Regions from separate parts of the Homo sapiens genome. Here region 2 is linked to region 1. The links come from fine-mapping of genetic effects on gene expression. A gene starts in region 1. The other region holds a variant in brackets. All regions are shown on one strand. Distances are from middle to middle. Region 1 holds the start of ZNF23 (zinc finger protein 23). Region 2 holds the start of CHST4 (carbohydrate sulfotransferase 4).

Evidence for each region. PIP is the estimated chance that this variant, and not a neighbour inherited with it, causes the effect.
Region 2: its variant is the best candidate, but not a certain one, in a credible set for the expression of ZNF23 in blood mononuclear cells (TOPMed, PIP 0.60).

What each region holds. Positions count from the first base shown.
Region 1 is chr16:71,452,862-71,469,159 of GRCh38, forward strand. ZNF23 (zinc finger protein 23) reads right to left here and starts at 9,386. Exons shown (of 5, transcript NM_001381984.1): 1 at 9,349-9,386; 2 at 3,903-3,967; 3 at 1,181-1,307; 4 at 382-489. The coding sequence starts at 3,935. It overlaps LOC124903709 (a long non-coding RNA gene), which reads left to right and starts at 9,451. Exons shown (of 2, transcript XR_007065105.1): 1 at 9,451-10,431; 2 at 11,072-15,854. RefSeq lists enhancers at 8,985-9,074, 9,345-9,504.
Region 2 is chr16:71,513,648-71,529,945 of GRCh38, forward strand. CHST4 (carbohydrate sulfotransferase 4) reads left to right here and starts at 12,779. Exons shown (of 2, transcript NM_001166395.2): 1 at 12,779-12,848. It overlaps LOC105371335 (a long non-coding RNA gene), which reads left to right and starts at 164. Exons shown (of 2, transcript NR_135172.1): 1 at 164-288; 2 at 3,958-4,199. RefSeq lists an enhancer at 12,412-13,022. The variant A/G (reference allele first, on the strand shown) is at 8,749.

The sequences.
Region 1 (16,298 bases):
ACTGTGCTTTTAAGCACTTCTATCTGTGTGAAAAGGCTGTTAATTCTGTATCCTCCACACTATGTGAATAATGCTTAGAAATGGCAAGGAACCCCCAAACTACTGAGTCCCTTAATTTTGTCTGAGAAAGGCAGGATTCCAAAATTAGCATTGAAGAGTCAGAATGAAGGGTTTGAAAAAAGATCTGTTCTTGGAATTAGACACAACAAACTTTGAAGACAGAAAGATAAGGACTACCTATCTCTATGAATCATCAAAATTTACTCAAACTTCACTCTGTATGACTGGCCAATAAACACAGTATGTTTATATGTTGCTAAAGCTGGCTTTATGCCTAAAGTGCTAAATTCCAACAGAGTGGGAAATATGTACCTCCCTTACCAGTCTGGAGGCCCTGGAGGCCTGTTCCTGCAGCCAGTGGAGATGAGCCCCCCAGCTCACTTCCTCCCTCCAGTTGTGAGATCACAGCAGGTTTGAGAAGTGGAAATCCTGGTTTGGGAGAGGTAAATAGGAGAGACAGATGAATAAACTCCCACAGACAAATTCCTAAGCCTCTTCTCAGACTGTCTCAGCAATGGGGAGGGAAGGTAAGAACCCCAGGAGGTCCCAAGCCTCAGGACTACGGGAAAGTACTGTGGGGCTTAGGAAGGACTAAAGAGACCTTGGAGACTTCCAAGGGCTTTGGGAGGCAAATGTGGGGGTTGGGGGTGAAGGCTTGGGAACGTGTGGGAGAGCCTGGTTAGGGCCCAGACTGTAGGCCTAGGAGACCTCATGCAGGGCAAGCAGGGAGATTCTGCCCAAAGGGATACCACTTTTTGACCTTGGCCTGAAATAATCCAGAGTACACTGAGATCCTTGAAAAGACTCAAGACAGGTAAGATGAGGGGGCAACTGAAGATGCCACTGTGGAACAGGAAGCAACTGGATTCCAGTGTTTCCAAAACATAGCTTTCATGGGTTGGATCAACAGTGCATACCAGTTCCAAGCAAAGTCCTATATAGGCCTACAAAAGGCTTGGCATTTGCCCCTGCCAGTAACCTCTAAGTCTAGATTAGGAACAGCTCTGGGGTTCTCACTCAGTAAAGGATTACCAGAGATCCCCTCAGTAACCTGTAAGGGAGAAGCAAGCCAGGAACCCCAATTGGCAGATTCCAGGTTCCCAGGGTAGAGAGGTCTTACCCAGGGAGGCCACATTCCCATAATTCTCCAGCATCACATCCCTGTACAGGGTCCTCTGTGCAGGGGACAGGCCATCCCATTCCGCCTGGGTGAAGTACACAGCCACGTCCTCAAAGGTCACCGACTTCTGAAACAATAGGTTCCTGCTGCCCTAGGGCCAATTCCATAGCTCAGGCCCTAAGTGAGGGGCAGAGCGCAGTATAAGGGCTTGGGGAGGGTGCTTGTGAGAGCACAAAATTAGTATTAACAACAAGGGGAAGATCTCAGAAAAAAAATATCGAGAAAGTAAACTACAAAGTATCCACATTCTCCCACAGCAGGGAAACCTCATGCCATTTTTCACACAAATAAGAGGTCACATTAAGACAGGCTGAAAGAAAAAAATTTCCATAAGCAAATTCTCTAAAGCCAACTCCACTCTTTTAGATAAGCTGCTCCCTCCCAGCAAACTCGGGGCTGATCCACCAGCAGGTCCCACACCACTCCCCTGCGCCTAACCTCAGCCCTGTTCTGCTGCCCACCCATCGCCCTCATCCTCACAGCTCAAGCCACCCCCAAAGATCATCCACGGCTTCTGTCTCATCCAGCCCCACCAGATTCCCTTCACAGACCCCCCAACAAGGGGCTGTGCAGCCTCTGCTTGAGCACCTCCAGCCAAGGATGCTCCATGCTGCCCAGGCTGCAGGGTCTTCCTGGAAAGCCAGAATTTTCCTTACCCTCTCCCATTCAAGTCTCATCCTTTCCAACTTCTCCGAAAGCTTCACTGTTTCTCCAAGAACATTTGGGAAAGCAGGGAGACCGGCCTTCCCACTGGCCGGCTACTCTCCCCTTTGCATCACTAAGCTATGTGGTTGGCACAAGCTCCACCACTCAGGGACGCTTCGTGTCACTCCCAGGCCCAACCACCCCTCCTGGGCAGCTGCAGCCTCTGGGAGGCTTACCCTCTGCCCACCTCAGCCTGCTCTAACAACCATGGGGGCTCACTGGCAGGGATCTGCTGCTCAACTCCTCTCTGCTAGGATGTGTCTTCCTGGAATTTACTGACCTCCACCCATCAGCAATTCTAGTCCAACCTTTAGGTGTTTCTGTGAGCCTTCTTTGTGTGACCTTCAACAAGTAACTTCTCTGCACAAAATATAATGTCTTCACTGTGTGCCGCCACCACCACCCTGGTAAGTTGGCACTTCCTTCTGAACTTACACTTCAGCTGGGGTCAGAATCACCCTCACAAGAAACCTCAGCCAGAAACCTGGGGATTGTTCTTGACTTCCCACCTTCCTTATCACCACAAATCCTTTGAGTCTCTATGTCCGAAAGATTTTTTTTTTTCTTTGAGTTGGAGTCTCGCTCTGTCACCCAGGCTGAAGCGCAGTGGCATGACCTCGGCTCACTGCACCCTCTGCCTCCCGGGCTCAAGCAATTCTCCTGCCTCAGCCTCCTGAGTAGCTGGGACTATAGGCATGCACCATAAAACCCAGCTAATTTTTCTATTTTTAGCAGAGACAGGGTTTCACCATGTTGGCTGGGCTGATCTTGAACTCCTGACCTCAAGTGATCCAACCACCTCAGCCTCGCAAAGTGCTGGGATTACAGGTGTGAGCCACCACACCCGGCCATGATTTTTCTATCTTAAGCATTACTTGAATTGGATCCCTCTTTAATGATGGCTTTCCTTGATGAAGCCCATGTCACGGGACCAGTGGGATTCTTCTTTGTGAAGTGGTCACCGTGCTTTTGAATCTTCCTTACAAATTATTCCATACACATCACAAATCTGACCAAGTTAACATCACTGGTTCCACAGCTGTCTTATGGCTAAGCAGTTCTGAATCACACAATAACTCTGTGATCCTGGGCAAGTTACTCTACTCCCCTTTTGCCTTTTCTTTTTAGGTGGAAAGAGTACAACACAGCACTTATCACAGAGGCGGTTGTCAGGACCAAACGACCATACAAAGGGCTTAGTATGGCTCCTGGAGCATAGTAAGCCTCCAAAGATACAACTGGTGTGACTGTGGACTGTTCCCAACCTGTAGTCCATGGAAGTCCATGGATGAGCTTCAGGGGATCCGTGAAGTCCCTGAAAATGTATGGAAAATTTGGTTTGCAGGTTTATGTTCTGCAGGTTCCCCGCACAACACCTCTTTCCTGCAGGACAGGGTGGAAAGCTCTTCTCAGAGACCTAAAGTCTGCATCCTAAACTTTGAAAGCTTCACAAGCACAATGAGACATTCCGTCCCATGTGACTGTCTTCCCCCTCCCTTGACTCCACTCCCTGTGACCTTCCCTTACCCCTGAATTAGAGGCACGGCCATCCTTCTCTGATCAGGTCCTGCTATTCCTCTTCTCTACATCCCCACCACAGATAGTCCAATCCTCTGCGACTGTGCTCCACTGACACCCCTGCACAGTACATCCCACAGGGGCGGTTTCCACGTCCCCATTCACCCAGAGCCCTATGCTGGGGGTGCTCCTGTAGAGAGGAGCAGAGACCCTCAGTGTGCAGAAGACCACCACCCTCCTGCTCTCCTGCTCACTCTCCCGCTTCCTCCACTCGCTACTGTCCTGGTCTCTGCCGCCCTCCCTGCACAACACCTCTTTCCCACAAGTTCCAGTCCAGCAGGTGGAAGCAGCTGTCATCCCGAGGCTCACCAGCTCCCCTTCTCAATGTTTTTCAATCTGAAACTGCCCAGAGGAAGAGCTGAAGGACCCCACAGCTCACCTGGGGCCAGGCTGTCAGGTGCATGGCTGCCATCCCCTGGTCCCCGTCTCAGAGAAGGGCTGGAGCTAAGGAGAAACACAAAGAGAGACAAGTGTGAGGCAAGCCACCCCAACCAGAGCAACATAGCCCCTCACAGAAAATGCAAGACACAGGCAGCTTGCATCCAAATAGGAGTGCGAACAGGAGCTGCCCAAGAAGGGAATGATCTGTTCACTGGCTCAGTGCCTAGGACTCCAGGCTATGACACTGAAATTCACTGCCAGGAACCCTAGGACTTTACAATTCTGATACATATCACACACACTGAAGAGTATATATATAAAATTTAAAAATAAACAAATAAAAATTAAAAATAAAAAGAAGAAGAAGAGTGCATATAAAACCTGCTGGGCACGGTGGCTCGTGCCTATAATCCCAACAGTTTGAGAGGCCAAGGCGGGTGGATCACTTGAGCTCAGGAGTTCGAGACCAGCCTGGACACATGGCAAAACCCTGTCTCTATAAAAAATACAAAAATTAGGCTGGGCGCGGTGGCTCAAGCCTGTAATCCCAGCACTTTGGGAGGCCAGGGCGGGTGGATCACAAGGTCAGGAGATCAAGACCATCCTGGCTAACACGGTGAAACCCCGTCTCTACTAAAAATATAAAAATTAGCCGGGCGTGCTGGCGGGCGCCTGTAGTCCCAGCTACTCGGGTGGCAGAGGCAGGAGAATGGTGTGAACCCGGGAGGCAGAGCTTGCAGTGAGCCAAGATTGCGCCACTGCACTCCAGCCTGGGCAACAGAGCAAGACTCCGTCTCAAAAAAAAAAAAATTAGCCAGAGGTGGTGACACATGCCTGTGGTCCCAGCTATTCGGGAGTCTGAGGTAGGAGGATCACTTGAGCCCGGGAGGTCAAGGCTGCAGTGAGCCAGTATCACACCACTGCACTCCAGCCTGGGTGATGAGAGTGAGACGCTATCTCAAAAAAATAAAAAATAAAAATAAAATAAAATGTATGCAGAGCCTAAAAAATAAAGCAAAGAGTCATGTATCCACAATTCATTTCAAGAAATAGGACAATACCAAGATCTTTGACTTATTTCTCTTTCTCAACACAAGCATTATCTTCAGTATCACAGCAGGAGAAGCTGGACTGGCTGGGCTGCAGCCCCAGTACACAAGCCTGGGGAGTCAGACCCCAGGGAGGCAGCGCCTGGAGAAGGCAGCTGCCCCCCAGTATCCTGCCCCACTTCCTCAGAGCTCTGAATGTCCTCAAGAATCCTAACACCTCTGGAGAGGTCTTGAGAGGTCAGTCCTCCTAAGGACAGCACAGGCTGTCCTTAGGAAGCTGAGCTGGAAGTTAGGAACCAGGCTGTTTCCCAAACTTTCCAGTCTTCTGATAGTGAATGAGCCAAGGCCTACACTTCTGCGTCAGCTCCTGAGAGAGGAGATCACTGTAGCAGCCAGTCCCGTGACCCAGAGCCTCTTGTTCACTGTATTCAAAAACATATGGACTAGTGATTTTCTGACTTTTACTGCCCCTAAAGTCAGTCTTGAAATTACATTTTCCTAAAATATCATCCATTTCTTCCAGGATTTCAACTTTACTAGTACAGAGTTGCAGAAAATACTGGTTCATGATTCTTTCCATTTCCTCCATATCCAGAGCTAGTTTGCTTTTCCCACTTCTTCTTTTGAATATATGTGCTTTCTAGACCTTTTTCCCAGGGTTAGAGTTAGAGACTAAACATTTATGCCCCTGCCAAATTCATATGTTGAAGCTCTAGCCTCCAATGTGACTGTATATGGAGACGGGGCCTGTCAGGAGGTTACAAGGATAAATGAGGTCCTAAGGGTGGGACTAAAGGTCCTAAGGTTAAATGAGGTCCAATAGGGGTGATGCCTTTACAAGAAGAAGGAGAGACCCAGAGCCCACGAAACCACTCACTCCCCGCCTCCCCCATGTGAGGACACAACGAGAGGGCTACTATCTATAAGCCAGGAAGGCAACCCTGGCAGGAGCCAAAATCAGCTGGCACCTTGATCCTGGACTTCCAGTCTCCAGGACTGTGAGAAATAAGTATGTTGGTGAAGCCACCCAGTCTATGGTATTTTGTTATGGCAGCCCAAGCAGACTAATACAGTTAGGCTGAGCAGTGTTTTACTTATTTTAATGTGGTTTCCTTTTATTTTCAAAGAACCAGCTTTTCTAGTTGAGCAACACTACTTTCTTCTATTTGTTTTAAATTCACTAATTCTGCTCTTAGTTTGTTCCTTCAGCTCTGTAAGGGGCAGTGTAAGCACCACTCCAATCCTCTTATCCCATCCTCAGTCCAGTTCTACAGAGGTTAGTCAGCTTTGTGAAGCTGCAAGCTACCAGAACCTTCACAAGGACCTACATCACCTATGCCTGGTTCCTGCCCTGGGGCTTCTCTGGTGTCCTATGTGGGACACCTGTGGACACCTGCTGGGCCCTGAAGTGCAGAGGCATTAACACCTGTGGGACCCCCTTGACCAATAGGGGAGAGAAACCAATGGATAAATGTTTTCCCCGTCGATCCCCCAGCGGGGCAGCCTTAAGACTCCAAGGCTCCTCAAACGCCCTGCAAGGCAGAGCCTGTTGAGGGCCGAGCATACCAATGCATCCTTGTACCAGTTCTCCCATCTCTGTTTCACTCCCCTTGTCTTTCACTCTGCCCCTGTGACCATATTCCTAAATAAATTCCTACATACAAATCTTTGTTCCACGTTCTGCTTTTGGGGAAGCTTAGACTACAAAAGGCTTTTTTCCCACCTTCTTGAGGTTGCATGACTTATTCATTTATTTTCATTCTTCCTATTTGGCAATTAAAGCCTATAAGGCCACAAATTTTCCTTGGGATACACTATTTGCCACATTCCAGAGGTTTTTATATTTCATGTTTTAATTACTGTTTTATAGTCAGTCAGCAATTCTGTTTTGTCTCTGACCTAGTAATTGCTTAGGATAGTTTACTGTTGCTAATTTCTTCTGTTTATAAGTTCTGGCTTTATTGCATGATGGTTATATAACCCAATCTACTAACTTCTACTTTACACATTTTTCAGGGTTTTTTTGTGACTCATGTCCATTTAAAAAAATATATTATCTGGTGTTTAAAGAGAAAACTTATTCTGTGATGGGAGAATATACAACTCCATTTTTAGATAATAAACCAACTCTACCAATTACATATGTAGTGTGATAGCTACCCCGCTCAGCTAGTCAAGGGTGTATACCTGCTGCCTGAACCTTGAAGACCGGGCAGTGAGTCAAGACCATGGGGCTCAGCAGAGGAGCAGGTGTTTGCAAGAACGTAAACATCCTAGAAAGTATATGAGAACCTACCAAGAAAAGTCTCATCGTTTAAATGCAGTAGGCAAACAGCCAGAAAATTCTCTAAAAAGTACTTAGAGACGAGGGGCATCACAGGTCTCTAAAGCTGTCCTGCTGCCATCCAGGAGTAAGTATGTAAGTCCTAATAAACTCATCTACTTGCCAAGCTGGACTCGTCCAAGGCATTCTTTGGTCTCTTGGCTCCCTCCCAAGGGGATAGTTTTTTTTTTTAAATACGATTCCAGGTTTTTTCCTGTTATGACATTATATAGATTTTCTACATAATCCTTGATTACTTTTACCTAATTAAACCAAGATGGCCAGTGAAGAACTAACTCTCACAAAACACTGAGCTCAGATGTGTCATGAGCAAATTCTTTCAATGTTTCGGAAATGAGTAATTCTAACACTATGTAAACCGTAGCAGAGCACAGCAAAGTAAGTTTCCCAATTCTTTTTATGGTGCCAGCACAATACTGATGCAAAAACTACAGACCAGTCTCATTTATGAATTCTAATGCAAAAATTCTATCAAGGAATAGACTCCAATAGTTCATTAAATACATCATGAGTAAGTAGGATTATCCCACGAAGATACTAATTAGTATATTTTTCACATTAATAAATCAAAGAAAGATAAACACACTGTCCATCTCAACAGATGCCAAAGATGTTTAACATAATTCAACATTTGTGCCTAATTTTAAAAACTTACACACTAGAGAAACTCTCATATGTAGGAAGTACGTACAAAAATATTATCAGCACATTTTAATAACAAAACACTGAAAACAACCCACATGTCCATTGAAAATACATCGATAAATTTTCATACAGTTTTTACAATGGAACATTACCCAGAAGCTACACACAGAATGAATTTGGAAACTTAACATTGAATTATGCGAGTCCCAGATGACTTATACACACAATGGTGCCATTTATATGAAGCTCAAAAAAAAAATTTAAGTACATTGCTTACAGATACATGCATATGTAATTATTTTTTAAAATAACAGGGCTACAATTAACACAAAAGTCAATATAACTGTTACCTCTAGGGGTTGGAGGCTGGGAGTTGGGTTGAGGAGGAGGAACACATTGATAAATTCAGCAGTACTGGCAATCTTCTCTTTCTTAATTGGGTGGTGTGTTCATGGATGTTTACTACTATATATGTAACATATAAATATATATTTTAAATAAATATATAAACCAGCAAGGATGGGGTGAAATTGAGGACCCAAAATGTAATACAAAGAACAGCCAATGTGCTTAACTATACTACAGTGAACATAACCACACTTAAGTGGTAGGAAAGAAAAGGGGTAAGCAACTTTGGAAAACAGTATTTTGACTAAATACCATAAGAGTAAAGACAAAAAGACCTGTATCCAAGTACTGTACTTTAGGTAGTAAATTTGCTTTTCATGGGGGTATGAATTAGCGATTCTGAGACTACTAAATATATTCTAAAACTGAGTGAATTCGTAATTACGTTGTAGAAGTCATTCCCAGGTCACTGTCAACCCTGAGCCGAGAGAAGCAGGGCTGAGTTACCTTTTGGGACTGACACTGCTCCAGGAGACAATGTCCTCCAAAAGCCGGGCTGCTTCTGCTGCCGGGTGACTGGGAGGGGCTCTGCGCTCCCACTCGGCCCTAATTCATGACCCTATGTCAGGAGCCTGGGAGCACACGGTCCATACTCGGGATGCACATAGGTTAATGTTCCTGCCAGACCTCAGCATGTCAAAAGACTTGTGGTATCACCTCGGGCCGCTTCACGCCCGCAAATATTCCATCTTTTAGCTGCACCGACACATCTTCCCCCGTCGACCAAGTGCTAAATGCTCAGGGCCTCGTGGCTGGGACAGCAACGTGCGTTTCCCCTTCCAATGGGCGCAAGCTATTGAGCCACAAAGACCAAAGCTGGAGTCGAGGAGCGCGGAAGAGCACCCCGGGCCGCCGCCCTGCTCCCTCTCCCAGCCTGGGCCTCCTGGCAGCGTAGGCCACGGGAGACCCTGCAGCACCCAGGGTGGGAGTGCGTCTCAACCGGACCCAGAGCCTGGGGGACAGGGCACGGCACACAGCGCCCGGAGCCCTGCACTCACCTCCGTAGCGGACTGCTCCCCGGCGCTGCCGGAAGTGCGTCACCAGGCGGCCGGGCCTCTCTAGGAGCAAGGTCGCTGCGCCTCGGTGGTGGTCACGCCCGGCCAGCTGTGGCCGCATCCCTGTCGGCTAGCTCGGGTCTGGCCCACGGTGACTGTTACCCCTGGGGAATGGGGCAGGTAAGAATCAGAGCCAAGCGGGGACCCAGCCCGGGGAGGTGAAGCTGCAGGTGCAGCCACGTGTGGGAGTCTTGGAAATGGACCAGTGGATGGCGCGCTGTCACACCCAATGCCCCCTTTTTCTAACAAATAGTTTGTAATGTCCATCTTATTCTCCTGACCTGATATTCATATATAATGGCCTAGAAAATCATACATAACATACACACCTACATATTAAAAACTAATGTTATGCCTTAAGTGTAATGAAAGAGAAAAAAAAGAGGACCGTCATCTGTCGTTTAAAAACACATACTTCAATGTGTTTGGTCTTGGCTGCTGCAGGAGACCTAATAAGGTGGTCGCCTTTACACATAGACGTTGTCTGAGTGCCACAGCCACAAAGCTGTGACTTACATTGTTGCAAAAGTCACAAAATTATGATCCAAAATGGCAAACATGTTTTCGTGAAGTTCTGAATGAAACACAGGACAATCGTCTCTTGATTATACAATAATTACATTCCTGGAAGATCAGTGTATGTTAAAACTGTGCAAAAATACATGTTTATCCAGAAAACAGGTTTAGATTCAGATAATTTAGAAATAGAATTTTCACCTACCTGAATGTTCAGCAAGACATTTGAAAGTGTGAACATTTTTTCAGTGGGCAGGACTGTCCTGTACATTGCAGGATCCTGGCTCCTATCCACAACGCTAGTAGCAATGTTACCACTGACACCAAATATAACAAAATACCTACCATAAAATTCCAAAATGAGCCCTGGGGGAAGGGAGACAGTACTAAATGCCACTGGATTGGACGACCCTTAAAATCCCCACCCCCTCACACACCCCCTAACCCTGGTAATGTGGGCTTTTCTTCCTTCCAGCTCTGATCCATCCAACGCTGCTGCACTGGAGACTGGTATTTGGCTCCCACTTGCCTCTGTGGCTTCTTATCACTCCCATTCATTCCCTGACTCTACCTCAGCCCTACATGCTAAAAATGCTGTTCTCTAAATCTAGAATGCCCTTCCCTTCCCATTCCTACCCTCCATCTTGACTGTTACTGGAAGTGTGAGCTCAAATCCCATTTTGCATGGGAAGCAAGCCTTCCCTCATCACCCAGAATAAGGCAGGACACTCATTTATGTGCCATCACAGCACTGTGTACTTACTTAATGGTGATAGTTTATTTATATGTCTGTCTTCTCTGGTGGCTGCAGGGAACAGACACTGTATCTATCTTGTTCAACATCATCATCCTCAGCTAGAGAATAACTGGCAGAAAGAAGGAGAGCAATAAACATTTGTTGTTGACAATGGTCCAAAGGCTCCAGCCCTAACTCTTAGGCAGAAGCCTACTTTGTGTGTCCCCAAGGGTAGGATATGTCTTATGCCTTGGACCTTGACAGTGACCATGGCCAGGTGCCCTTCTCTGCCTTGCCCTGACCCTGATCTTCACTGTTTTCCAAAATGAGTTCATTAAGAAAATGATTGGGCAGAGTAATAGCTGGGGATTACGTTGCTCTTGTCAATAAGTTCTGGTTTTCACTTCTTTCTAGGGTCAGAAATCAGGAGTGAGGACTTGTTGAAAGAAATAGGAAGGAATCAGATCACATAAATGCTGGCCCCAAATGTTTGCATCATAAACCCATTGCCTAATTTTACAGTTGAGAAAATAAAGCTCTCTAAATAACCACAAAGCTCCTACTCCTACTTCAGACATATCAGAAAAATGAGATAATAATGCACAAACCAAGTTTCAAAAGCTCTATGGTAGGTCTGGAGAGATGGAGATCAGTTCTTGTCTGTCAGCCCCTGTTCTTCCATTCTTATAAGGTTACAGAATCTCTAGCAAGGGACATGACAGCTCAGGGAAAAAGCACACATTTCCCAGCATTCTTTAAGGCAAAGTGTGTCCATGTGACCAACTTCTGGCAAACAGGCTGTAAGAAAATGTGATGCTGTGTCCTTAAAGACAAGGGACATGCCCTCCCTGCCCCCAAACCTTCATCGACCAGGTGGAATGTTGACAAGGGAGAGCATCAGAGCATCTTGGACCATGTGAATAAGGGTGTGGCTGCTGGGGATGACAGAGCAACTAAAAGGAGGAGGCACAGAGCTGCTATATCAGCCCCAGATGGCTTACTTTCTGATGATACATGAGAGAGAAATAAACTTTCATCAAATTTAAACCACATTTATTTGGGTTCTTCAAATTAATTTCCAAGCCCATAGCCTAACTAATACCCCTAGAAATGAGGAAGGATGGAAAAATCACACAACACAAGAGTTAAAAAATTAAGCTGGCTCTTCGACTACAGCATTCTAGAAGTTCATTTCCATGCTGGGCCTGCAGCCATGTAGTGTCAGTTTCCTCCTGCTCAGCTCTAAGGCTTCTTCTCCTGCACCCTTTGTCCCTGCAGCCCCAAGACCTCTCTAAAGCCCTTCCTCTCTGACCACCAGGGAAAGCTGACAATCTTCTCATGTTAAAAAAAATCTTTTTTGTTGGCCAGGCGTGGTGGCTCACACCTGGAATCCCAGCACTTTGGCAGGCTGAGGTGGGGGGAGTTACCTGAGGTTGGGAGTTCGAGACCAGCCTGACTAACGTGGAGAAACTCTGTCTCTACTAAAAATACAAAATTAGCCAGGCGTGGTGGCGCATGCCTGTATTCCCAGCTACTCGGGAGGCTGAGGCCAGAGAATCGCCTGAACCCAGGAGGCGGAAGTTGTGGTGGGCTGAGATAGCGCCATTGCACTCCAGCCTGGGCGACAAGAGCGAAACTCCGTCTCAAAAAAGAAAAAATATTTCTTGTTGTTTCCAGTTTTAATAGGACAGAGTAAAGATGGCTTTGCCTGCTTCTTCTCATGAAAACTGTGGCAAAACAACTGTCTGGTTGATGTTCATTCCAGGAGTTCAAGGCTGTTTTCAGGCTACAAAATTTTTACCTACTTATTGATGTTGTGAGTTCTGTGAATAAATCATTTAATCTATGTGGAGAAATGTACTAGGGTAGGGCAAGGTCTTATTCTCAAAGCAACCAAACATATATAGGAATAAGTTTACTAATAAATGTATAAGACATATATCAAGAAAATTTTAAACATTTGGGGACTAAACCAATGAAAACCCCTTGTGTAAATGGAAAGGCACAGGTAATCCTTCAGTAGGAAGGGTAGTTTTCTTTATTTAATCCATAAGTCCAACGTCATACCAAATAAAACCCCTATAGGATTTGTTTTAAAACTTGTGAAAATGATTCTAAAATTTACGCAGAAAAAATGTTAGAAGTGACTGGACAGTGCCTCATGCCTATAATCCCAGCACTTTGAGAGGCCAACGTGGACAGATCACCTGAGCTCAGGAGTTCAAGACCAGCCTGGCCAACATGGTGAAACCTTGTCTTTACTAAAAATACAAAAATTAGCCCAGCGTGGTGGCGCACACCTGTAATCCCAGCTACTGGGGAAGCTGGGGCAGGAGAATTGCTTGAACCCGAGAGGCGGAGGTTGTAGTGAGCCAAGATCATGCCACTGCACTCCAGCCTGGGTGACAGAATGAGACTCCGTCAAAAAAAAAAAGAGAGAGAGAAGGAGAGAGAAAGAAAGAAAGAGAGAGAGAAAGAGAAAGAAAGAGAAAGAAAGGAAGGAAGGAAGGAAAGAAAATGTTAGATGCTTATAAGGTACTACTGAAACTTAAGAAAGCACAAGTATTGAAAGTCAAAGAATGGAAAATAGATATATCAGACAAGTATTAAGGGAAAGGGAAAATGGCACAGCTATATTAATATCTCACAACAATAAGTTTAAGACAATAAATATTACGCAGAATTCAGTTGAGGGCAATGTAGCAAATAATATAAACTAGAATCTAGAAATTTAGAATAAGATATAATATTCGACATCATTTTAAATACTTAACTCACAGGAAAGTGTACCCACGTACCAAAACCAAACAAGAAACTAAAACCAGAGGCATTGGTTTGGACTGAGGACCTCAGCTGATGCTTTGGCCAACAGGGGTGGGAATGGTGAAGAGTTGTAAGTCTTGATATCTGAGAAAGCAGAATTATAATATGCAGGAGGCATATTACAGGAACAAGGAATAGGAACAGAGACTTTTCTCACACACATACACTCATCCAATCATGAAAGGATAAATTTTTTAAAAATCTCATGAACAAAGAGAGATAACAAAGAATCTTATGGTCCTTGCCTAAGCTTTGAAGTGGTAGTAGAAATGTCTTCTAAAAATTTATAATCATAGTTTGCATCATTAAGTATAGAGTTTAAATTAATACTATCTACTTGGACCAGTAATTCATAATCCAAGAAATTACATTAAAAACTAATCCTGATAGACTTCTGAAATAGTCACAACAGAATTAGTAGGCAATGACATTTAAAAGTTATTACAACCATATCTGATACATCTAAAAGTTTGGTGGAGAAATGAAACATATAAAAAAGACCCAAATCAAACTTCTAAAGATAAAAACCTATAATGTGCAATAAAAATACATTGGATGGGATTAACGGCAGATTAGACATTACAGAAAAAAGATGAGTGAATTTGAAGACATAGCAACAGAAACTATTCAAAAACAAACACAGAGAAAAGAAAATTAAAAATAAATGTACAGGACTGAGAAGTCCTGATTTCTTCACCTACTAGCTATGAGACCTTGGACAACCACTTAGCTTTTCTGAAATTCCAATGATTCATCTGAAAAATGAGATAATAGTTCACAGTTGTTGTAAATACTACACATAATGTTTTGCTTAAAGTACATACAACAGGGACCAGGATTCAGTAGTTGCTCAATTAATGTTAACTTTTCCCCTCCTCTAAATTATTTGTGGACCTGATTACACTTTTTTATTTGTCAGTAATGAAGTTAGTAATGCATAAGTTTGTAAATATGACATATTATAAGTAGGAGAAAGACCTACAGTGCCAAACTCCTTCAAAGTTTTTTGTGCATAACCTCACAGAAACATGCTAACAACAATCAAGTTCGGAAGATTTTTACCACAGAGAAAGCAGATCCAATCCATTGTATGTTTCTGAAAATAGGTTAACAGGTGGGGGTTAGCACGTGAGGAGAGGGCATGAAAAAGAATCAAGCAGCCTGTCTCCAAATGAATACAACATACCTTCTTTCTCACATGTATTGCCTGATAATTTGCTTATATGTGCCTAGGAAGAGCCCTGAGCATTCTTCCTTACATAGTATGACCAGGTATTACACATTTTCCCCTAACTTGAAGGACGTTGGCCTCTGGCATAACACAATGATACTAGGTACCAATCCCATAGACCTCCCAAGGGAATCGGTCCAATTATCAGCTCTGATGCTGAAGTTTCTAGAAGGAAGAGAAAGAATCTCAACCCCCACCGTGTCATAAAGAACCTTGTAAAAGACTGCTGATTTTAGAGGATTACAATTGCCAGGTACACCGGAGTGGAAAGCCCCAAGAAATTAACAGTGACCACTACAACCTGTGTTTAGTGTCATCCAGGTACAAAGGACAGCAGTAGAAAACAGAGAAGCCGTGGTGCTGTCCAAGGTGCTAGCTCCGACTCAGTGGGGGGGGGGGGGGGGGTGTGTCTGTGGCGCTCTCCAAGGTTCTGGGGCTGGCCTCAGAACCATTGTCCTCCAACCTGGTGTGTTGGTCCCCTCTGACTATATATGTGTGTGTGTTTTTGAGGAGTCTCACTCTTGTCACCCAGTCTGGAGTGCAGTGGCACGATCTCAGTTCACTGCAACCTCCACCTCCCGGGTTCAAGCGATTCTCTGGCCTCAGCCTCCCGAGTAACTGGGATTACAGGCGCCCACCACTACACCTGGCTGATTTTTGTATATTTAGTAGAGATGGGGTTTCACCATATCGACCAGGCTGGTCTCGAACTCCTGACCTCAGGTGATCCACCTGCCTTGGCCTCCCAAAGTGCTGAGATTACAGGCATTAGCCACCATGCCCAGCCTCCCTCTGGCTATATTTTAAGCCTGATATCCAAATACTTAATCTCACCCTATTCCTTTCTTTGAATTCATTTGGTCAGAACCTGACACGTATCACCCAGTGCCCCAGTTCCTACTTGTCTTCTCTATCACTCTGCCTCAAAATCCAGAGATTCCAAGGATGATAATTTATTGTGGGCCCAAATGGCTAAGAGAGGCTCTTCTGGGAAGCTTTCTTACATCATATAAATTTTTGTTAACATGAATTATTTGTATTTGAAAGATTTAAAAGACAAGGAAGCTATGTATTGTTCTTGTTGTTAACAATAAATTACCTCAACACTATTTGAACATAATAAAAATGTAATAAAACCTGAAACTTCGTGTGTTCCAATTGCTTTATTCAACTAACTTACACTCCTTTCCTGGTGAGTTACCTTGCATTCAGGTGTTCTGAGCCATGAAAACATTTTTCTTTCTTTTCTCTTTTTTGTAGAGATGGGGTCTCGCTATGCTGCGTTGGCTGGTTTGGAACTCCTGGCCTCAAGGGATCCAACCATTTTAGTCTCCCAAAGTGCTAGGATTATAGACATGTGCCATGATGCCTGGCCCAAAGACATCTTTAATCTGAATTGCACTTCATTAACTATTAGACACATTTATGTTTATTATGTAATGCTTTCTTCACATCCATACTGAAGAAGATCCAGTAGGTATTATATCTATTTTATAGATGAAGAAAAACAAAGCTTACATGTTACAGTCTTTGTAGAACATAGACTGTAGTGGGGGACACAACTTTTAAGTAAATCCACACCTGGAT
Region 2 (16,298 bases), 61 kb after region 1:
TTTTAAATTTAATTTCTGTACAAAAGCTATTACAAAAGAGGTAAGATTTCCTCCTACTTCTTTTCTCCTGCCACCCAGTTCCTTTTCCCAGAGGTAATCAATGAGAAATAATTTAGAATGTAAGATATGTTATAATTCTGTACATGCCATGGCAACAGGAAATAAGCCATTCAGGGCTCATCCGGAATCCAGGAAGTGTTTGGATATTGGAAAAACAAAAACAAAAAAAAACCTTTGTTCTGTAAGACAGTATAGAAAGTTGGGAGAAAGGTCTACTCCAGGATCAAGGTAAAATCTGACATGCCACATAACCATAAAAGAGAATGGGGGATAAAAGAATGAAATAATGAGTCTACCTGGGAGCTATGTGTGAGCCCAAGACAGGAATGGGAGTTTCCAGAAGTTCACAGAGCAGTTAAGACCAGAATAAATCCAGGTAGCCAAGACCAGTCAGGACCAGGCATGGAGATAGACCCCAGGGCTGCCTCTCTTTCCAAGCTGATCTGCAGACTGAAAATTTAGACCAGTTACAAATTATCTAAACTGCCCCAGGAGCTGAAAACCTTTAAATTTTAGAGTTGCGAGGAAACAAATACTATCTAATACATCTACTCTCAAGCATTTTGGTCTCAGGGCCCCTTAACACTTGGAAAGATACTGAGAATCCCATAGTGTTTTTGTTTATATGGGCTCCTCTCTATAGATATTTACCATATTAGAAATCAAAATTGATAAATTTTTAAATATTTATTTATTCAAAAATGACAATTATGAACATATTACATGTTGACAAAAATGCTTTTATTAAAAATAAATATATTTTATTTTTTAAAAATTAAGGGGAATGATTAGCATTATTTTACAGTTTTGAAAATCTCTTTAAAGTCTGCCTTAATGGAAGACAACTGGATTCTCCTTTCTGCATCTGCATTCAAGGTGATTTGATATCACATGACACATAGCCTTGGGAAAACCACCATACACACACACACGAGAATGAAGACGGCAAACGATGTCCTAGCATGATTATTAAAATGATTTTGCATCTACAGACCTCCTGAAAGGGTCTCGAGGACCCCAATGGTTCCTGGACCACACTTTGAAAACTATGGATCTGAAAATAATTTAGGATTGCATTTTCCTGTAATGCCGCGTCTTAGCAATGTGACCTTGGGTGAGCTACTTAACTTCTCTAAGCCTCAGCTTCCTCCGCTGTAAAGCAGCACTAAGAATAGAAGGCTACGTTTATGGCCACATGCCTTCCTATAATCTGGGTATCTTCATGGTCATTATATATATAAGTGAGGTAATACTTATAAATATTTAATACAGTACTTGGCCCCTAGTAATCACTCAGGTAACAACTCTTCCTACTATTATTGTTAATATTTGCTATTACTACATATCAAGCATTGTGCCAGGCACAGCAGGGGTCATATCACAGGGTGTAAGAGGCCTCAAGTTGCTTAACAGTAGGGGACATAGGACAAATACCTAATTATAGAACAGAACAGATTTTGTCCGAATGATACAAACCAGGAAGAGGTCACATTCATTCACTCATTCAACAAATATTAATCGATTTTCTCCAGTGTGCCAGGAACAACAGGGAGGAAGAGGCCAAGGTTTCAGAGCCTCAGGAATGAGGAACAGCAGGAGGTGAGGGGGTCAGTGAGGAATGGGATGGGCTGGGCGTGGCCAAATCAGGTAAGGCTTTGTAGGCCTATGTAATTGAGGATATAAGGAAATGTTTTATGAGAAGGCTGCATTTGAATTAGAACTTCAGAAGAGGCAGGATTCGGGATAAAATTGATGTGCACATTCTTTTATGCACTTTCAACAGATATTTGAGATTTCCGCCAAGTCTGCTGCACAAACGATCCCTACTTCCAAAGAAGATATTTTTGCATTTAATGGTTTTTATCACATAAGAAATACATGCGCACTTTTAAAAATTAGAAAATACAGGAGTGACCAGCCTGGGCAAACATAGCAAGACTACTACATCTCTACAAAAAAAAAAGAAAGGTGGGGCGGGGGGGGGCCAGGTGTTTCTTCTATAATGTTCTTGCTAGTGGTGGTGCACACCTGTAGGCTCAGCTACCTGAGAGGCTGAGGCAAGAAAATCACATGTGCCCAGAAGTTCAAGGCTGCAGTGAGCTATGATAGCACCACTGCATTCCAGCCTGGGCAACAGAGCAAGACCCTGTCCCCGCCGTCCCCCAAAAAATACAAGTGAGCAAAAATAAGAAAATAAAAACATTCTTCTGGCATGGGTTGTGTGTGAGACCCCAGGACTATCCACCTACAGGATTCAACCCTAAGCCTGTGGGACCAGTGGTTTGTCTGCAGGGAGCTAGAAGCAGCTAGAAAAGCCGGCCTGCCTGCCAGGGTAGACCTCCTCCTCGCCCCCTAACCAAATTGTGCTCACGTTCCTTGAGTCCTCACCGCCCGACTGCGCACTGGAGAAGTTGGAAGGAAAAAGCCTCGTGCAAGAGGAAGCGCAACCCAGGGCGCAGAAGCCCCCTCCTGGCGCCGCAGCGGGGCTCTGCCAGCTCTCCAGGGAGGCGCTGGGTGGAGGATATGGCCAGAAAGGCAGATGTCTTCTAAGGGGGAAAACAAAGTTCCTGGGCGAAGGAAACGTGAGAAAAGGACAAAGAGGAGTAAAGAAGAGGGTGCATCAGCTTGGGAAACGCAGCAAGGCGCACAGTGCATGCGCACTATGTAGAGCGTAGGGGCTGCGGGGCGGTGTGGGGAGAGGTCACGGCCACCGTGCGTGCGAGGCCGGGGAGGCTGCGGGGGATCGCATGGGAGCCCCCGAGGTGAAGCCGGGAAAGCGGCCCCACGACGACCCCCTGACGGCTGCGGGAGGGCTGAGAAGCCTCCTTCCCTAATACATTAAAGAAAAAAAAAATTAGGCCGGGCGCGGTGGCTCACGCCTGTAATCCCAGCACTTTGGGAGGCCGAGGCTAGTGGATCACGAGGTCAGGAGATCAAGACCATCCTGGCTAACACGGTGAAACCCCGTCTCTACTAAAAATACAAAAAATTAGCTCGGCGTGGTGGCGGGTGCCTGTAGTCCCAGCTACTCGGGAGGCTGAGGCAGGAGAAAGGCGTGAACCTGGGAGGCGGAGCTTGCAGTGAGCCAAGATCGCGCCACTGCACTCCAGCCTGGGCGACAGAGCGAGACTCTGTCTCAAAAAAAAAAAAAAAAAGAAAAAAAAAATTAATCCAAGTGGGGGTGGTTTTAGGTGCTGCCTCTTTATCTTTTGCTTAGATTTTGGAAGGGTTTAAAATTTCCCTCCTTGCCTTTAGATTCTCTAATCTTGTATCCGACGTTAATTAAGCACCTACTGTGTACTAGATGCTGGTGCTGGGGGCACAAAATGGAAGACCCCTATAGTCCTATAGGGAGGCATATATGTAAACGCATGTGCATCATTACAGAGGTTTGTACAATTTACTTTGGGGGGCGAGGAGAAAGAACTGGCACGGGGAGAAGGGAAGGTTGCACAGGAAAGGCATATCTGAACAGGGTTTAGAAGGCTGAATTTTTGGCAGGTGGAATGGGAGTAAGGTGGGGAGGAGAATATTCTAGAAGAAACAGCAGGTCTTAGAGAGGCATGGAGTGTGAAAAGACGTGCTTCTGTGACTAACATAACAAAATAATTTGGACAAAGTTATTTATCCTTCCTAACTCTTAAGTTCCTCTTGAATAAAAAGAAATAGTGACAGCAATATAGCAATGTGTCCAATCAGTGGATTATGAAACACACTTCAAAGGCAAAATGATATCCTCACACCCAAAAGGTAAATGCTATCATAACTCGGGTGAACTGTGTTCTTGGAAAGGGAGCTTAAAACAGTTTATCCCAATGTTGATTCTGGTTTTGGCTTCATGGAGTCTCATTCATTCTTACTTCTGACCTCTACCCCTACTGTAATTATTTTTTCAAGGAACTGGACCAACAGGACCCAAGGGAGAGTATCAAAGGCAAAACAAAGGAAAATGAGGACAACCCAATACTCAGAAAAAAAAACGAGTAATTCATGGATTCACAACGGGCAACAAACTAGATGACTATTAGGAAGAGAAGAGCAAACCTTATGATCTCAAAATGATTTCTTGTTCATTTGCATCCTCGCATCAATCTAGACTTTAAGAAATATGTGATTTTTAAATAAATGGGTATATCTGCATAATAGTGTTTTGGCATTAAATTATTTGATATGACTATTAAACATGTTTCTGCAAAAACCACTTCACCATACTGCTAGAATCTAGCAGCTAGATTGACCCAACACTTCATTATGTCATTCCCTTGCTCAAAGGTTGAAAGCAACCAGATGTGGTGGCTCACACCTGTAATCCCAACACTTTAGGAGGCCAAGACAGGATGATCACTTGAGCCCAGGAGTTCAAAACTAGCCTGGGCAACAAAGTGAGACCTTTTCTCTACACAAAATAAAAACACATAGTCCCAGCTATTTGGGAGGCTGAGGTGGAAGGATCGCTTGAGCTCGGGCGGTCAAGGTGGTAGTGAACTGTGATTGCACCACTGCACTCCAGCCTATATAACAGAATGAGCCTGTCTTAAAAATAAAAAATAAAGTTGTAACTATTCTCTGCTAAGTAGAATATAAAAATGCCCTAACCTTACACTCAGATTTCCACAATTAAGCTCTATTCTGCCCCCTATCCACACCCTTTTTCACTATTGCTCTACAGAAACCCTCTTCTTTGACAAAATTAATTTTCTTAGTGTGCCTCAAACACACAATCCCATGTGAACACTGACCTTTCATAAAGATGATATTCTCGCCACCCCAGCCACATACTTAACTAGGCTACTAGATACATGTGTCCTCTGTGGTCTCCTAGTGGAAATTCTGTTTTTAATGTTAATACAAATAATTTTTTAAGCAATGCAAGTTTCTTGACATTGTTTAGGAAACGTCAGTGGTTAGAGTGATTTAGTATTGCGTACTGAAAATAATAGAAAAAATATCGACACTGAGTCATATCTACTTCTTTACCTTCGACCTTTTAAAATGTACTTGTGGGATTTAGATTATCTTTGGATTGAACTATACAATACAATAAAATGTAAAATTAAGTGCCCCATGTTTGAGAGACAATCATTGTACTTGAGGTAGAAAAGTGCTTTAAACAGTGATGAGACTTGGTTTTATATTGTCGCTTCACATATGTTTGTTGGACCAGGTTTTCTGTGGGTGCGTGTATTTGATTACATTGTTTAGTTATAGGGAATGTGCACCTGTTTTTTGTTGTTGTTGTTGTTGTTGTTTTCAGCTGGGCGCAGTGGCTCACGCCTGTAGTCCCACCACTTTGAGAGGCCAAGGTGGGCAGATCACTTGAGGTCAGGAGTTTGAGATGAGCCTGGGCATCATGGCAAAACCTTGTCTCTATTAAAAGTACAAAAATTAGGCCAGGCACGGTGGCTTACGCCTGTAATCCCAGCAGTTTGGAAGGCCAAAGTGGGTGGATCACCTGAGGTCAGGAGTTCAAGACCAGCCTGACCAATATGGTGAAACCCCATCTCTACTAAAAATAGAAAAATTAGCCGGGCGTGGTGGCAGGCACCTGTAGTCCCAGCTACTCAGGAGGCTGAGACAGGAGAATCGCTTGAACCCGGGAAGCGGAGATTGCAGTGAGCCAAGATCACGCCACTGCACTCCAGCCTGGGCGACAGAGCAAGACTCCATCTCAAAAAAAAAAAAAAAAAAAAAAAAAAAAGCTGGGCAGGGTGATACACGCCTGTAATCCTAGCTACTAGGGACGCTGAGGCATGAGAATTGCTTGAACCCAGGAGGCAGAGGTTGCAGTGACCTGAGATCATGCCATTGCACTCCAGCCTGGGTGACAGAGAGAGACTCTGTTTCAAAAAAAAAAAAAAAGTTCCTTTTTAAGGTTGAACAAAGGCTCATTCATTCCTTCCTTTCCCAGACTTTCACCAAGCGCCTTCTATGGGCCAAGCATTGTGCTACGTGCTAGGTATACACAGGCAAGAGGTAATATACACAGATAAAAGGTGATTCTCTCCCAACGTGAGTTGGGAAGACAGACATGGCTAAGGCTTGTGGCTATGCTGAAGGGACTCTGCAACAATTTTCTAAGGCTACTATAATGCTGAGTAACAACCAGCCATGAAACTTCAGTGGTATACAATAAAACCTCATTTCTTGTGCATCTAGGGTGGTTGCTTAGGTAGTTCTGCTGATTTGGCTTGGGTTCACTGAAGTGTCTGGTGGTTAGCTGCCATTGGCTGATCTAGGATGGCCTCAGCTAGGACAACCATGGTAATTTGGATGTGCTTCCCGTGCCTTTCATCCAGCAGGCATGATCTCACGGCAGTGACTAAGACACAAGAGCAAGAACATGTCCAACTGCACAAGTTACTTTAAAGCCTCTGCTTAAAAACATCCCAACAGGCCAGGCACGGTAGCTCATGCCTGTAATCTCAGCATTTTGGGAGGCCTAGGCAGGCAGATCACTTGAGGTCAGGAGTTCAAGACCAGCCTGGCCAACATAGTGAAACCCTGTCTCTACTAAAAATACAAAAATTAGCCGGGCATGCTGGCACATGCCTATAATCCCAGCTACTGGGGAGGCTGAGGCGGGAGAATTGCTTGAACCCTGGAAGCGGAGGTTGCAGTGAGCCAAGATTGTGCCATTACACTCCAGCCTGGGTAAAGAAGCGAGACTCCATCTCAAAAAAAAAAAAAATCCCTACAATCAAAGCGAGTAGCATAGCTGAGACCCCAGGCAGAGTTATATGTCATAGGGCATGGATACAAAGATGGGAGAATGGAGGTCATCATGGCAATCTGCCATGAGCTCTGAACACACAGACCAGGGCACCTAACTCAGCCTAGGGACATAAGGAATGGTTTCCCAGAGAAGGTGATGCTGACTTGAGTTGAATCTTGAAAGAGAAGACGCAAGTTAACCAGGCAATAAAGCAGAGAGGGCGCTTTAAGCAGAGCAACCCACATGAACCAAGAGCTTTGGAGACTGAAGTGCTTCCACGTCTTTACTTTATGTGATGCATATGCCCTGCAGCTATTAACCTTTCTGCAGTTTCCTGTCTGGAATGTAGATGTGAGCCCTAGATGTGCACAGCTGTCTCCTGGCCATGAGGCAATAAGCATGAAGTTGATGGTCTGTAGAAATAAGTCACCCAATGGCATTCTTGAGCCACTGTATCCACCCCAACTGTATGACTACATGACTTCATGTCACACAGGTCAGCACCCAGGAACTCCTGTGATATCCCCTGGAGAACTACCTAGTCCCTCAGTGCTCCGTGATCTATCTCTTCTTTCTCCCTCAGTCAAGACTCTTTCTCTCTCTCTCTCTCTCTCTCTCTCTCTCTCTCTCTCTCTCTCTCTCTCTCTCTCTCTCTCACTCTCTGAGATGGAATTTCACTCTTGTTGCCCAGGCTGGAGTGCAATGGCATGACCTCAGCTCACCACAGCCTCCGCCTCCCAGGTTCAAGCGATTCTCCTGCCCCAGCCTCCCGAGTGGCTGGGATTACAGGCATGAGCCACCACACCCAGCTAATTTTGTATTTTTAGTAGAGATGGAGTTTCTCCATGTTGGTCAGGCTGGTCTCGAACTCCCGACCTCAGGTGATCCGCCCGCCTTGGCCTCCCAAAGTGCCGGGATTACAGGCATAAGCCACCATGCCCAGCCCAAAAATCTTGTTCCTTCAACCAAGCTGACTCCAGATGCTTTGCATTGTTTGGAGAAGTGGTGATGCAGTTTCTCAATGTCTAGAGTTTCAACAACACCCCTACCCTGGCCTCCACGTCACCATTGCCAAGAGTAAAGAGAGAGCACCCCAGCCTCTTCCAGCAGGTACTTCACACTGCCCTTCCCCAAGTTTTCAGTTTGGCCACCACTATCTTCCTGGAGGCCATCATTATCTGTTATTATTTCCTTTATCCTGGTTTATGCCAGTCACACAAGTAGCCCAGGATCCTCAGTTGTTCCTTATCCCTTGTGTTTCATCCCAAATGGCTCCAAATGTCTCATTTTCTGACCCCATTTCCCACCCTCCCCATCCCGACACCCTTGTTGGGATCCACAAAATCCATCTTTTCTCGAAGTGTCTTAATTTCCTCTTCACTTTCTTGCTCTAAAGGAAACTAGGTCTCCCTTGAAGACACTGCTTTCTCTGCAGTCCTCTCAAGTGGTGGCTGTTTCTTACACTCCACAATGGAATAAGTTTTCTTGTTCCTCATTGCTGCTTCCAGATTATTCTGGCTCCCTCCTTCCTAAACATTTCCAGCTTTCACTCTGATATTAACCAGACTATATGGCCCTCATTACAGTCATATGACCCCTGCCACTCTCCAACTCTACTCCTGGGACAATTCTACATGAACTCAATATCCTTAGAGATGATACTTTCAAAGCCCTGATGTCTCAAATCCTTGACCTCCTCACTCCCAAAAAACTTGCCCTCCAACTTAGTTCAGCTATAATCTTTCTGTCCTTCTTTCTCCTCTTAACCAGCTTAGATTCCATGGTTCATTATCATAATTACACCTTTGAATATCCCCTAGGCTCCCTTGCCTCTCTAATACTTCATTGTACTCTTCCAGAAAAGCAGAGGTCTTACTTAAATCTAACTCTCCACTTATCCCCACACAAGTAGTAGTAGCCGAACAGGGCTGGAAAAACTACACACCTCTGCTATCTGCTTTCATTTTAAGTTTATG[A/G]CCACTCACCTTCGGCTTCACTCATCTATCTTACCTCATTACCCTAGCATAGTCACTAACGTATCCTCACAGGTGGCCACTCCATATCTTCCTCTCTCTTCAGGCTTCCATTAACTCCTTCCCCATCCTCAGACTCAGCTGACAACCTTATCCCCTCACTCACTAGGAAAATAAAAGCAATAAGAAGGGAGTTTCCACAAATTCCCAGCACATCATCTACCCACCTACCTGCAACCTCCACTCCCTGAGTTCAAGCTATTCTCCTGCCTCGGCCTCTCGAGTAGCTGGGATTACAGGTCTATGCCACCACACCTGGTGGATTTTTGTATTTTTAGTAGAGACACGGTTTCGCCATGTTGGCCAGGCTGGTCTCGAACTCCTGACCTCTGGCGATTCACCCACCTTGGCCTCCCAAAGTGCTGGGATTACAGGCGTGAGCCACCACACCTGGCCGAGAGACACCAACTCTTAAAAGGTGCCTAACTAAGCATCTCGAGGAATTTGTACTGTGTCTCTAATGAGCTCTTTTGTAGCATTTTCATCAGGGAAATGCTGGGGATCAGATCCATCCTAGGAAAGATCATTCTAGCTGCAGCATAGAGTGGGAAGGCTGGAGGGCATAAGATTGGGGATATGGGAAAAAGTGAGAGACTGTTGGCAGAAATTCAAGCAAAAAAAAAATTGAAAGGCAGACTGAAGACAGGGGCTGTTGACATATAAAGGAGGGCAAATTTGACAGCTATTTAAGGTTATTTTACCTTTAGACAGACATTGGTGATCAATGTGATACATGAGGTGACAGTCCACCGGAAGACACACTGATAGTCTCCCCAGATTTCATCCCCAGAAACTCCCTGACTAAATCATCACGGGTCACCTGAAGCAGTCTCTGACAGTTTTTGGAAGACCAGAGGTAGAATTTCAGGAGCCTGATTCCAGATAAAGCCACAATTATGCAGCAATGTTATGTTCCTGAACCATCAAAGACATATAAGGGATGCCTGAGTTTTACTAGGAGCTCCTGGCTCATTATTTCCTATTTTCCCATCCCCTCTGCCCTTCAAGGGAGCAACAAAAAAGCAAGAACCAGTGAAAAACTTAAAACTGTGTTCGTTTTTTCCCTAATCTATTCTAGTCCAACTTATTCTCCCACTGTTGAAACAAATATTTCTAACACAGATAAGGGACATCGTATTGCTGGGGGATTCCCTACACAGATGTCCACCACCAGGGCCCAGCTCAAGGAAGCAAGTTCTACTGAAAGCAATTACCCATTTGATAATAGGATTTACAGCAACCAAGATTTCCTTCCTGGCTTGCAGACACTTCTTCCGAAGGCGCTGGCTCCCTGTGATGCTAAGATCCAGTCTCTATAGACTTCAGAAACTTAGCCAAACTACAAAGCCCTCCAGAATCTATTCTCTAAACTCAGCCACTTAGCCAGTGACCTACTCAGGCCAGACACTGGCTTTGGTAAGCAAAACAGGGCTGGTGACCAATGTAGGGAGTGACATGTTCCTCAACAGTTTCAGGCCTGGACATCTGCATTGCAGGCTGATGCTTAGCGTAAAAAAATGAGGAATGCTAGAGCCCCCATAAGAAAAGAAACTCAAGGAAGCATCACTGTCCTTTCAGTGTCACTAGGGACAGAAAAGATATGTAGGTAAGTGTGGAAGTGAAGAAACTGCAATCTCATTTGGAGTGATGGTCAGGGTAAGGTAGCAGGAGTAGGTAGTATAACCAGCAGAAAGATCCTTTTGACCCCTGAGAAAATCAGAGTCTAGGTCAGTAGCTGACCCCAGGTCTCTTCACCACTCAGGTGGGTCCCCAGACAGTAAAGATGGTAAACTTCCAAGGGCAAAGATGAGATCAGCGACTCCGCTGAATAGTGGTCCCCAGGAGACAATTGTCTAAATCACTTCAAGTACACACAGCCTTTTGTACGGATTTTAAACTTGGGATTCCTTGGCATTGCACATGATTTTGTGTTTGTATATGAGCAATTGTACATTTTTCTACAGAGGTCTATATCTGTTATCAGATTTTGGAGACTCAAAAAGAAAAAGATTAGATCTCTTACTTGACTGCACGATCCAATATGGTTGCACTAGCACGTTTCAGGTGGACAGTGGCTACTGTATAGTGCAGATATGGAACATTTCCATCATCACAGAGACTGTTATTGGACAGTGCTGCCTTAGAGACGTGGGCTGCAGGACTTCCACAAGAAGGCCTGGATATCAGACACCAGCATTCAAATTTCTTCCCAGTGCTGTGGAATGTGGTAGACCCTTGGAAGTCCAGTATCTGAACATGCTGGTCACCACCGTATACTAGTGACCAGAGGATGCCTTTCTTCAGCTGCTTGGCATTCTGCCAGCATGAATTCCTAGCACGGGAAAGATGGCAGGTGATCTGAATTACTTGGGGTTATGGTGTATTTGAGTGACCTCACTATATTTGGGAAGGCGCTGGAAAAACACGAAAAGAATGTTAGAAAGGGCTGGAATAAAACTACAGGAGTCCCCTCTTTATCCACGGTTTTGTTTCCCAGTTTTAACTACTCATCATCAACCACGATTTGAAAATATTAAATGGGAAAATTACAGAAATAAACAGTTCATTTATTACATACTATTCTGAGTAGCATGATGAAGCCTTGTGCCATCTCGCTGTGTCGTGCCAGCACCTGAATCATCTCTTTGTGCATAAAAGCAAAACTACCGACTGCCCAGTTCTAGTGCTTCCAGTTACACCTCTGCCCAAAGTCCTTCACTGGAGGAAGAGAAATTTCTCTTCTCTCTGCCAGAGAGAAACAGGAAGGGAGGAAGAGCCACACAATTGAAATCAAGTCAAGGCAAGCACCACAGGTTCTTGTCATTTGTGCTTAGCGGACTTAGCTGATGGAAATCGGCAAAGATCATCCCAAAGCTCACACAACTCCCTGCCTGCTCTCTCTCTCTTCCAAGGTCTGGAAAAGGAAGTGGCAGCTGAGTTGCGGGGGTGGGTGGCGGTGGGAAGGTATTATTATTCAACCACTTTTTAACTCTTATATTGTCATATTATTGTGTTAGGAGCTTCATACGCATTAATCCTAACATTCACAACAATACTGTAAAATAGATATTGTTACCCTTATTTAACACCGATGATATTCTAGGGCTCAAAGAGGTGGTATGACTTGCCCGGCAAGATCTTGGACTTGAAAGTCTGAGGCTTCCATTCTCCACCACAATTTACGTTTATTCACGGGCATCCATTGTTTCAGACTCATGACAACCGTGTAAAGTAGCACGGAGTAGGTAAGTGATTTGCCCAAGGGCACACAGCAAGGGAGAGGTTGTAATCTTTAATGATAATTTGTTTCTTTTTTTCTTAAAGGGGACTTTTTTTTCTCCTGTACCACCAAGCCAGTACATCTATGTCCTCCCAGAAAATATTTATTACCTCTTGTAGCAAGGGTGAAGATATTGAATACAACACAGAGGCTGAGAAATGTTACCTCCCTAGACCCAGGGTGGAGTGAGCAGGCAGGTGTAATGCAAGAAATAACTTTCACATTTTCTCCTTGGAGATAAGAACAAGGTCTAAAAATCAGGTTTGAGATTTTGTAGCCTTTCGGCTTGTAAGTGTCATGAAATTTCCCTATCAGCCTCATCTACTAGCTCCCTGGGTCTCTCTCTCTCTCTTTCTCTTTTTCCCCACCTCCCCACTCTGCCCATAGGGAGTTGACCTTCACAGTTGCCTTTCAGTAGTCAACATGCCAGGATGCCTCCAGTCTGGGGGAAAATGCTTCCTCATTTGCTTCTCCCAGCCCACCTCAAGCAGTCTCCCCACCCCTTGAGTCTCAGCAGTGTTAAAGCTGTTACTTTCACAGCTTCCTGGGAGCGAGTGCTTTCTCAAGCCCGTCTTGCAAGGTGGGTCCTTTTTTGTTTTTGGCAGAAGGGAGGGACAGTGAAATGTGCTCTGAGTAGGGACGGTTATGCAAAAGCAAGTAGGAGGAGGAAGCCAAGAGGGGAGTTGGTGAGTCAGAGGAGAAAAGCGCATGGCCCGGCTAGCAGTGAGCCTCTCAAAAGCAGCAGGGAAGCCCAAGCCACAAGGTAAGAAGAGAATTTCTGTGTACGACTCCAATGCAGAGCCATTACCCAGAGCTGCTGGAGCAAGAGTATCAGATAACCTCTGGCAGCTAAGCTAGAGATTACAGTGGCGAAGGCGGTTTGCGCAGAGGGGATAAATCAGATCACCTGGGGAATTTTCTGGGTAAAATAAAACACAAGCTGCTTACCAGCAGCCCCCAAGCCCCACTAGCTCTATCCCTAAATGGGTCCAAAAGAGCCCAGAGAGCAGATCAGGCTGTTCTGATGTATATTTTGTAGATGGTCCCCTGGTGCCAACTGACTCGTTCAGATCCTGGCTTTGGAGCTCAAATTTCTGTACTTCCTGCAGCTTCTCCTCTGTTTTCTGCTGGGGAGTGGAAGACAGGAGGTGCAAGGAGCTGTAGGTTTTCTCTAGCTCAGGAGAGGGACAGTGTGATCATTGAAAATTCTCAGCCCTGGGATCCCCAAAACCTGGGTTCTGATCCAGAAAAGGCTATTTATACCGGATGAGCCAGTCAATTAAAGTTTAGTTTATTTATTCTGAAAAATGAAGAAATGTCTCATCACTGTCTAAAATATCTAACCGATCAGTATCATAATTGCAGCTAAAAGGGCTTTAAAAATGTGGAACACCACGCACATGTGCAATATGATTAAGTTATGGTGCCAACATATCAGCTATGGTAGAAGATACGTCTATCTTGCATGGCCTTGGACAAGTATGAAACTTCTAATTGGAATTGAAATACTTTTCTATGTGTAAAATAAATGTAATATTGTCGATGAAAAGAGTCAGACTCTGTGACATATTTGAAGAGATTTATTCTGAGCCAAATATGAGTGACCATGGCCGGTGACACAGCCCTCAGGAGGTCCTGAGAACATGTGTCTAAGGTGGTCGGGGTGCAGCTTGGTTTTATACACTTTAGGGAGACATGAGACTTCAATCAAATACATTTAAGAAATACATCTAGCCAGGCGCGATGGCTCGCGCCTGTAATCCCAGCACTTTGGGAAGCTGAGGCAGGTGGATCACCTGAGGCCAGGAGTTCAAGACCAGCCCGGCCAACATGGCGAAACCCTGTCTGTACTAAAAATACCAAAAAAATTAGCTGGGCATGGTGGCAGGCACCTGTAATCCCAGCTACTCAGGAGGCTGAGGCAGGAGAATCGCTTGAAACCGGGAGGCTGCAGTGAGCCGAGATCCTGCCATTGCACTCTAGCCTGGGCAACAAGAGCAAAACTCCATCTCAAAAAAGAAAAAAGAAAAGAAAAAAGTACGGGTCTGTCGCCCAGGCTGGAGTGCAGTGGTGCGATCTCGGCTCACTGCAACTGAGAGGAAGCCTTCAGATAGCAGGCTTCAGAGAGAATAGGTTGTAAAATGTTTCTTATCAGACTTAAGGTCTGTGTTGGTGTTAATGCTGGAGAGGTATGATGAGGCATGTTAGATCCCCACTTCTTGTCATGGCCTGAAACAGTCTCTCAGGTTAAATTTTAAAAAGACCCCTGGCTGGGCACAGTGGCTCATGGGTGTAATCACAGCACTATTAGGAGACTGAGGTCACTTGAGGTCAGGAGTTCGAGACCTGCCTGGCCAACATGGCAAAACCATGTCTGTACTAAAAATACAAAAAATTAGCCAGGTCACTCGGGAGGCTGAGGCAGGAGAAGCGCTTGAACCTGAGGAGTCGAGGTTGCAGTGAGCTGAGATCGTGCCACTGCACTCCAGCCTGGACAACAGAGCAAGACTTCATTTCAAAAAAAAAAAAAAAAAAAAGAGTCCTGGCTGAGGAGGAAGTCCTTTCAGATGGTTGGGGGGCCTTAGAATTTTATTTTTGGTTTATAATATCTTGCTCAATCTTCCTTTCTGGGTCTCATATAGTAAAAAAAAAAACACTGTACAAATATATGTTCACTTGTCATTTGTTGAAAGATGTTCCTTGAGCACCTACTATGTGCCATGCACTGTCCTTGGCACTAGTGACACAGCCCTGGCGGGACCCAGGTCCAATCCTCCTGACACTGTCTAGGAAGAGTTTGTTATATGGACACCCTTTACCCAGGTGCCTAGCTTCAGAGGTTTTCCAGGTCTTCAGGCTGCTTGTGAGGATGCCAGTTTCCCCAATCCAACCCCATTCTCTCTCTCTTTGCTCAAGGTATCTTCTGCTGTATCTAATTTCTACTTGTAAGGGGCATAATCTCATGGGAAGTGTAAGTTAGGAATGCATCCAGTGGCTGGAACCCAGACTTCTTAAATTAGTATCTATCTGGTTTTTTTCCCCCTCAGAATTTCCCATTTTGTCTCTACGAGGCTACATGGTACCGATTTGGGGGACATCTATAATTCAGCCCACTCTAATCAGCTGCTGCTTGAGGTCACCCATCTGGCACCTTCGTGGTTCCTGTGCCAAACATAGATTCTCCCTTCTCACCACCCTTTGGTGGCGTTTTCAAGTTCCTAAGGTTCTCTTGACTCCTCAGAAATGGCTGTCCTTTGTGTTTTAAGATGATACCGTTCACCCATCGTTGGGGCAACATTTTTTTAAATTAATTTTTTGGGGTGGTGATGATGGAATGTGCTGAGTTTGGGTTTTTTGTTTTGTTTTTGTTTTTTGTTTTTTTTTTTTTGCTTTTGCTTTGTTAGCCTAGTAACTGAGCTGATTCAAGCAAGGTAGCCTATCACCCAGCAATGAGGCTTTTATTTTTTAAATGTTTTCTAAAACTAATTTTCATACAGGAAGAGAAAAATAATTTCCCTCCTGGTTTTAATTAATGCATGCTTGGTATAGTAACTGTTTTTTGGACCAAGGGTTACTGTGCCATACTGCATCTAACCCATGCCTCTGACTTTATTAGTAGCTTGGTCCAAGTAACTGAGACGGCATGGGTAATGTGCTCACTGTTCCATGCAATCACCTAAATTTTAGTCACTGATGCTGAAGAGTGTCCGTGTGCATTTCAGAAAAGGATACTTATGTTTCATTCTCTTGAAGGAGCTCCTTTAGTTTTCTGCTTTCTAGCAATTACTGTGCCTCTTCCCATGCTCATCTATTTTTTTTTTTTTTTTTTTTTTTTTTTTTTTGAGACCAAGTTTCGCTCTGTTGACCAGGCTGGAGTGCAGCGGTGTGATCTTGATCAGGAGATCAAGCCCACACTCATCTATTTACTCACTTACTCATTTATTTAGCAAGTGTTTAATGAGCCGAGCCCTGATCATTTGTAGAATTGTTATGTACGTGTAAGTAAGATAAGATACAGCCTTTCCCTTAAGCTATAGTGGCCCAGAGAAAAGAGAGGCACCCATACAGGCTTTTACTGTCAAAAGGGATGGCTGCTAACAGAAGGTCTGGGAAACAAATTAATCTCAAGAGGGGGCTGGGCGCGGTGCTTCACACCTGTGATCCCAGCACTTTGGCAGGCCGAGGCGGGAGAATCACCTGAGGTCAGGGGTTC